2 separate regions of the Homo sapiens genome follow, and region 2 is linked to region 1. The links come from fine-mapping of genetic effects on gene expression. A gene starts in region 1. The other region holds a variant in brackets. All regions are shown on one strand. Distances are between the middles of the regions.

What was found. PIP is the estimated chance that this variant, and not a neighbour inherited with it, causes the effect.
Region 2: its variant is fine-mapped to the expression of FAM167A in lymphoblastoid cells (GEUVADIS, PIP 0.95).

Annotation. Positions count from the first base shown.
Region 1 is chr8:11,464,551-11,468,550 of GRCh38, reverse strand. FAM167A (family with sequence similarity 167 member A) reads left to right here and starts at 1,798. Exons shown (of 3, transcript NM_053279.3): 1 at 1,798-1,925. RefSeq lists an enhancer at 1-635 and a silencer at 1,881-2,090.
Region 2 is chr8:11,502,603-11,507,111 of GRCh38, reverse strand. All of the region lies in intron 1 of BLK (BLK proto-oncogene, Src family tyrosine kinase), which reads right to left. Among named protein-coding and RNA genes, the nearest start is that of BLK, 10 kb to the right of the region's middle. RefSeq lists enhancers at 250-309, 3,597-3,736. The variant T/CTTTTCTTTTCTTTTCTTTT (reference allele first, on the strand shown) is at 2,700.

The DNA.
Region 1 (4,000 bases):
GAGGCTCCTGCTTGCAAACATGGTTCATGCCCTTCCGGAGCCTACTGCCTCAGAGGGAGACACATACTAATCAAATAACCTCACAGGTAAACTTGGAATTATAACTGGTCCATGAAGGACATAAGGCAGGGGGCTGCCAGCACCTGTAACCTGGGGTTCCCTTAGGAGGCAGAGCTGCAGCAGCCTGTCGGGAGGAGCAGGTGCACAATGGGACTGGAAGAGGGTCTGTTGTCTGGGGAGCAGGGTCTGTGCAAGACAAGGCCCTAGAGACGGACAGAGGCCAGCCAGGCCCCTGCAGCCAAGCTAGCTGTTAATCCTCAGAGGACTGGGGGCGTTGAAGGCCTTTAAGCAGAAGCAGCTGAGACTGGATTTCCATTCTTAAGAGTTTCCCCTGTTTGTGGAGGAGTAACTGGCTTGGGAGGCGCTGAGAGAGGGTAAAGGGAGATCAGTATGGAGACTGCGTGCACGCTTGGACCCGGGTGGCAGGTCCCAGAACTGGGTAGGGCAAGCTGCTGGTGGCTTGGGTAGGGACAGTGGCAGCGGGCAGGAAGAAGGAAGGAGTGATGTTTAGGAGCTGGAATCAGAAGATCTGGATCAAGGCTGTGACTCTCCAAAAGATGCTTGTTAATACACCCGCTAGCTTAGGACCGTTCCCTCATTAGCATGACTAGGTCTGTACTGGCAAGATGTCTCCTTAGACGACGTCCCTCAGAGGACCTTCCAGTGAAGGTCAGAAAGGAAGGGAGTAGGTCAGGGCTGGATGCGGAGTTGCAGTGAAGGACGCGGGCACCAGAGGGCAGCACGAGTGTCTCGGGCCCCTGCAGGGGCTAAGACCCCACAGAAGGCCCGACCAGCCGCGCACCTGCCTGGAGCCTGCGCCAGTCACTTTGCAGCCCCACCACTCAGCTTCGCGTCTGGCCATGTAGGCGGCGCCTGCGCGCACGCCCAGGGCTATCGTGAGAATGGCAGACTGGAGCCCTTTGAAAGACGCTTCCAGCCCCGGGCATCTAGGAAAGGTGCTTGATGAGGTCTGGGGTAAGAGACCCCCATCCAGTAACCAGCCTTGGGGCCTCCAGTGTCTGGCCTGGGCCCCTCGTCAGAAGCTGGGACTGGTCCTGAAGACCTGCGGTCCGGGCAGCTCGGGCTGCTGTCCTGCCTGTGCCTTAGGGTTTGCAGCTCTGGGCTCTGATGCAGCAGGGACTGGGTCTTAGAATCTAACGACAGCCAGAGGTGGCCGATGCCGCGCCCCTGGCGGGACAGACACCCTGTGGTTAGTGGGGCAAACGCTCGCGTCTTTGCACCTCAGTTTCCTCATCTGGCAGCCAGAGATGCCTACACTTGCCCTGCTGGGTCGTTGGGGGGCGTGGCCCACGGTAGGCGCTCGCGGGCAGTCGTGGCCGCGGGTCCTATGAACTCCTGCCGTTTGGGGGTGGGTGAGGCCCTGGGCGTGGGGTCCCCCTGCGCCCTCCATGCGGACAAACTTCTGACAGTGGCGCAGTCACGTTGCCACAATTGGGGGAAACTGCCTTGGTTTCGGGTTTAATGAGAAAATGGATGTTTGGGTTTGGTTTCATCTGGGGTTTGGCGAAGGCATGTAGTTCCTCTCCACTCGCGGGGGCTGCCCGGGCCGGTGAACCGACAGGGCGCTAGGACCCGGGGCGCGCTCGGACCCGGGGCGAGAACGCGAGGCCGGGATCGCGGTGAAAGGCTCGCGGCGGAGAGCTCGGCCGTCGCCAGGCAACCGCCCTGACGCAACGCAGGGGGAAAAAAAAAGTCCTTTCCGAAAGGAGCAGCGCCGAGAATTCACCGGAGCTCGGGGAGGCGAGGCGGGAGCCCTGAGCTGAGGCCGGGCAGCGCGGACCCGCGCAGGAGGAGGCGGCGGGGACACCGGCGAGTCCCCAGCAGGGCCCCTGGGCTCCCGGAAGGTGGGTTCGCGCCGGCGGCGGGGACTTTCCCAGGGACTGGGAGGTGTGGCCGCGGCGGGCGGCGCAGTCTGGGCAGGGGCTGAGGCGTCGCAGGTCCCCAGCGCGAGCACTGGCCCGGAGCAGCCCGATCCCAAAGCGCCCTGGAGGGGACGCGCTCCTACCGCCCCCCCGGGAGAGGCCGCTCATGCGCTCCCGCGGGTTCGCTGCCCTCCCAGAGGAGCCGGGCAGCCAGGGCTGGACTTCATCTCCTAGCTCCCTGCTGGCCGTGTCCGGGCTCGGATTCTGGGTGGAGGTTCGGGGTCTGCCGTCTGAGAGGGAGGGCCGCACTCAGCCTCTCCGGGTCCACTCCCAGGCGGCTGGTGACCTCCAAGCCCAGCCTGGCTCCTGTGTATAGGTTCAGTGAGATGGAAGTTTCTGTCCCCACGGATGCGGTCCCTAACTAATGGGAGGTGGCCCAGGGCACCTGGACCCAAGGGTGCTCTAAGGACCCAAGCCAGTGTGACCTGAGGGAACGGCACAGCCGCAGGGGCCCCCGGGAATGAGCAGGTCAGCCGTGAAGGTGGGCACCCTGAGTCACCGAGACACCGGAGCACAGACGGCGGGGGGGAGGGTGTCTTCTTCAGCCAAGTTAGGTTGGATGTATAGGTTTTCTGCACACCCGTTACTGCCTGGTTTTTATTCCCGGCGGGGCTTGGAGGGAATTCTGAGGACTGGGACCTCCTGGGAAGATCTGGAAGGAGGGTTGACTCTAGGTTGGGGGCTGGCCACTGCCGTATGCCTGCAAGCAGGTTCTCCCAAGTCAAGTTTCCACAAACTCCCCGTCATTGCTGGAGAATCCCAGAAGATGAGATCACGTCCTATCCACAGGGTTTTCACCAAGGGGCACATGCTCCAAAGCAGCTTCCCACTGACACAGTAGACACAGTCCTGCCCCTCACTAAGCTCGGGATGGAGCGTGGAGAGCGTGGACAAAGTCTTGGGAAAGCAGAGGTGCTGTGGCGCCTGTTGCCTGAGGGCGTTGGCAGGATAGGAACTTCTGCAGCGTGTTTTTAAGGAGCTTGGAAAGCAGCCATGGGCTGTGCTTGGAATGGATAAAGATGACAGCTCTTCTTTCTTGAGTGCATTTATGGACCATGCACTACTTAGAAACCCTTCGCATCCCTTGGTCACTCCATCCTCCCCATCAGTCTTCAAGGAGACTCTATTATCCGTTTTGCCAATGGGACTCTAAGAAATTGAGTGACCTGGTGTGGCTCCCACACCTGGTGAGAGAGCAGAGAGTCAGCCTCACGTGCCTGACTCCCGGGACAGTGCTCTCAGACGAAGGCTGCTTTGGGAAATCTGAGGCATCTAAGGCCCAGAGAGGGGCAGAAACCACTCACGCCCAGATGAAATGAGAACTGTGTCGTGGGGCTCATCTTATGACCTGAGAAGGTCCCCTGCCTGCTTGAGGAACCCTGTGGAGCCAGGAAAGCCATTTCTTCTATTAGGAGCTTGCAAGGCTGTGTTGTTGGGCCTGGCCGGCCTCAATTCTTCCCACCTGAAGCAGAAGAAAGGGTTGCTCCCCCACACCCTGTTCTCCTCCTTGCCTGCCCAGAGCCCCCAGACTCCCTGCGCACTTGCTCCTGTTCTTCTGGTCCTCGCAATTACATGCATGGATTTCTACTAAATTGCCAGTCCCCGCCTTCCTGTCTACTAGCTTGGCCCCCCTCCAGGAGGAACTCTGGCAGGGAAATAAATTAAGGCCATGCCTAACTATTTGCTGAGAGAGAGCCACAGAGCCCCAGGCCAATGAGGAAGAAACTACTTGCTAGGCTTCTCACACCCTGGCTGCTGTGTTCTCTAGGCAAATCTTGCTCACAGAAAGCCCCGTTGGCCCTACAGGAGCCCCGGTATTCCCAGAACCCTTTGGGAGCTGTGCTTTCCCAAGGGACTTGAGCTGCTTGCAAAGGCGGAAAATGAGTAACTGAGCACTTTGCTCCTGGTTTCCAGACCAGGGGTGGGAGAGCACGCACGTGCCACTAACTGGAAATCCCTTAGGATTAGCCTGGCTGGCTGTTACTGTGCAAATGCAC
Region 2 (4,509 bases), 38 kb before region 1:
TGTCACAAGCTCAGTGATGCTTACACACTGCTCTGTCAGCAGATGGGACAGGCTACCTGCCTTTCTGAGATTGTTCTTCCTCCTATTTGTTATTTTCCCTACCCGCACCTGAACCATTCACGATGGTTCTGCACCCATTGTCACAGGAAAGCAGAAAGAGAGACAAAAGAACTTTCCTGCTTTCAGCCCGTGATGCAGATCTTTCAGCCCGTGACTGAGAGATCTTGTTGAGTCAGTTTGGGCAACCGCGTCTCAAGTGGCCTCCCTGAGAGTCCCACCTGGGGGGCCCCAGAGTGGGAGGATGCATCCCTCAACCTGGGATGTGGCCTGGAATCTCTGAGAGGGGGCTTGGCCAGGGTCAGAGGCTGACATGACATTCTAGCAGCCCCCTGCATGGACTGATGACAAAGACCAAATAGGCCACCCCAGAATTCCTGAGACTCATGAGGCTCCCAGAACTTAGACCCCACCCTGGAGAAAGGTATGAAGACCCTGAATTGAGAGGTCAGTTTCCTCTCCCCAACAGAGATGTAGCTATTACCAGATAGCTTTTCTGTTTTTGCACACCAAGCTGTGGACTGAGATTCACACTCAACATACGTAAATCCAGTCTGTCAGTCATTCACCTGAGCCCACCCACACCCCTCCAGAGGCCAGGAACGCCCTCATAAGAAGCCTAACCTGCCCTTCCACCTTCCATGAAACTAGTGCCATGGCCAACAGTTACAAGGATTCAGCACATTCTGTTGTTTTCTTTTTTTCTAAAAAATGATAAATGAGCCAACTACATCTTTCTGAGTGTCTTCAGGCTGTGACCTTGGGAAGGCAAAAAGCCCTGGCATTGTCCTCCCCTAGGTCTGCAAATAGGACATAAAACAGCTTCAAGCACATTCAAGGTCACCTTAAAGACACCCCACGATGTGGCAAAGAGACAGCTCCAGAGCCAGGCTGGTAACCTTCTGCGTGACCTCAGGAAAAGCACTCAGCTCTCCAGGTGTGCGGTGGGGAACCAGGATGAAGAGCCACGTGCACCTGGCACCTGGCCCAAAACCTGTTCTACCATCTGCCTCCCTGTTGGGCCCACTGTGGGAAGAGATTTGTCATGCCTGGCGGGGACAGGAGCAGGGCGAGAGGAAGATGGGGAGAGGTCTTATCGGAGGCAGGGACATTAGGACTGGACCTCCAAGGATACATAGAAGCTCTCTGAAGGAGATGGGCATTTCAGGCAGGGAGTGGAGTTGGCAAAAGCTCTGAAGTGTCATGTGTGCCAGGGAGTCCTCAGGGACAGGACAGATGGGCCCAGCGTGCTTGGAGAAGAAAGGAGACCCAGACTGTCCACTCCCTGGAGGCCTCAATGGGAGACTTGGCCCTTGTTCTCAAACACAGAGGAGTTTATGGTGGCTTTACCCTGTGCGGTGATAGGGCCACATTTGAGTTTTAGAAAGACCTTGGCAGCCACACATGGGATGAATTGGAGCATCAGATTCTGAAGACAGAGAAATGAGCTCCAAGGATGCGGAACTGCCCAGTCTAGAAGGGGGAGGGCCTGAACGAAAGCAATGGAGCTTGGGAGCAAATTGGAGAAAGGAGAGAACAAGTGTTATTACAACTTTGCCCTCACTCAGGGACACCGGCCAGAGGCTACAGTTGGCCCTGCATTGAGTTATGAGTGTCCAGGTCACCCTCTGGCTTGGCAGGTCACCATGCTGTGCTCAGGGACAAGGGGTGGAGGGAGCGGGTGCTGTCTCCCTTCTCCAGGCCCATTCCAAGTAGAAAACAGAGATCTCTTGCTATTTGACAACAGAAAACTTTGTACAGTAGAAAGAATAGAAAGAACTTTGTGAAGGATGATACTCAAGTGACTAGATTTCTACAAAATAGATGAGGTTTAGGAAACTTTATGGCACAGAATTTATTTGTTCAGTTTTGCTGCAATAGTATTTGTCATGGTAGGTGGTTTTGCTGTTGTTTTTGATAAGCATGTAGATGTACCTGTATGTGTGCCTGTGTATCTTTGTGTGTTCCTCTGTGTCTAGGTATTTCTACATGTCTGTGCATGTGTGTATATGTGTGGGTGTCTGTGTGTTTCTGTGTGTATTCTTATGTGTATGTGTCTGTATCTATGTGTCTGTGTGCATGTATGTGTCTGTACGTGTCTCTGTGCATGTGTGTTTGTGTGTACATATGCTCTGTATCCATTACCCCCTTGCCTGAAACATGGCCACAGAGATGTCCTCATTTTGGTGTTTCTTGTCGTAAAATCCTTGAAACAAAGTCCACATGGGCCACTTAGGCCAAACACCACATGCTGGAGAGCACCAGGGTGCCCAACACTAAATATGCCAGCACCCTTATCAGGCCTCATCTCAAGGGTGGGAACAGGGGGCACACTCCTCAGTCGCTTAGACCGTCCTCAAACAGCAAGTCACCATATTGGAGACAGTTTTTGAGCACATGCTCCATGTAGCCTGAGCTAGTAGCCCCTCCCGCCTGCAATTAACTAAAAGTATTTAGCTACGAAGACTGATAAAAGATCTTAAACGCACGTCCCTGTGATGGCATTACACACGGATAACCAGCTTCTGAAGGCGCCTACTTCTCCCCCTTCTGAAGGGCCTACTTCTTCTTCTGTGGCCCTTTCCTTGGCCACAAAGGGGTGTGGCTTTTGTGCAGGTGAATGGGATCTTTTCTTTTTTTTT[T/CTTTTCTTTTCTTTTCTTTT]CTTTTCTTTTCTTTTCTTTTCTTTTCTTTTCTTTTCTTTTCTTTCTTCCTTCCTTCCTTCCTTCCTTCCTCCCTTCCTTTCTTTATTTTGAGATGGAATCTCGCTCTGTTGCTCAAGCTGGAGTGCAATGGTGCGATCTCAGCTCACTGCAACCTTTGCCTCCTTGGGTTCAAGCAATTCTCCTACCTCAGCCTCCTGAGTAGCTGGGATTACAGTCGCACACCACCACACCCAGCTAATTTTTGCATTTTGAGTAGAGACAGTTTCGCCATGTTGGCCAGACCAGTCTCAAACTCCTGACCTCAAGTGATCCGCCTGCCTCGGCCTCCCAAAGTACTGAGATTACAGGTGTGTGCCACTGTGCCTGGATGTGAATGGGATCTTTCTAAAGCCAGGACCTAAGCTCCAAGAAAGGCTGGGGAGACTTTAGCCCCAGGGTAGATCCCTTCATCTCCCGGCCAGGAGCCTCTCTGGGGGTAGTTTTGATTCCCACTTGCTAGTTCCCACAGGACACTTGTCTGGGTGGCAACGTGGAGTGCCGGAACCTGGAAAGATGCACTTGACCAGCAGGGGAGGGTGGAAGATGGCCCCTTTCACTGCGAGCCCAGGGCAGCCAGCAGCCTCAGCAGAGGTGAGGCCCAGGCAAGAAAGAGGACAGAGTGACCTCTTCCATCCTCCACACCTGCACATAGGAACCTCCAGTCTGGTGACCAAGAGAGCAGGTGTCTCCTTGCAAGTCTCAGCCCTCAGACCTTGCCAAGAAAGAGCACCCTTGCTTACTTCAGACAGCACACAGATCCCTGGTCCACGGCAGGAAATCACCCAGCCACATGCTCACACTGACCTGGTGGCAAAGGCCTCTCTGAAAAGGGTCACCCTGTATAAGGCTTGGGCACAGGATGGAGCAGAAAAAAATAGAGCATCTCACGTCCCACCTGACACAGGGGCAGGTGACAAAGCTGCACCTCTCCCTTTGGGAGTTACTAGTCGTCTGGGTGTGCCAGCACCCCCAGATCTTTCTGATCAGAGGAAACCAGATAAAAGCCATAAACGCACTTTGCAGAAGAGTGCCCACCTACACACAAGCTCCCATCCAAGATCAGGAGCTGACAGGCTACCAGGAGACTCATCAGAAGCCCAGGGGCTAGAAGGTCAGAACCAGCTTAATCTATTAAGTGCAGAACATCAAATGTCCTTTTAGATGCTACGTGTGGTTGTGTGCTTCACACATACACAAACATTCTCTGCACTTGAACAACCTCAAGCATCAGGGCCTCCTTCAGTTTTGCACCCCAGGTGTGTCTTTACCTCCCTCTGGTCCTGGCTCAGCATCCCAGGTATCAATCTGTGCAAAGAGGCCAGCAGAGAGTAGAGATGAGAAGGAGCCCAAGGGGACATCCTTGTATCCCATGGTTGTGGAAAACAGTAGCCGTTTTGCGAGTGGGGACTTGCGAACCCCACAGTGGCTGGCAGCAGCTGGTGTAGGGACATGACAGCCATGGGGACAGGTTCTCCATCCAGGCCCACAGGCCCACCCCCCTTCCCCTGCCACCGAGCACAAAGCAGGGTCACCCACCTGGGCCTCCGCTGTCAGGCTCGGGACTCAGGAGAGCCCAGGAGGCAAGTTATTCTCCACTTGTCCCCACTTGGCTGCAGGCAGGACCCTGATCTGCAGTGTGGCCTCAAGACACTCGGCCTCCCCGTCAGTGATGCACTGGGGGCCAGCTTGTGCCGGTATGCTAGAGCCGGTTGTTAAATTCTCAGGAATTTTGTGAGCTGAATTATTCAAATCATTATGCAAGATTAAGG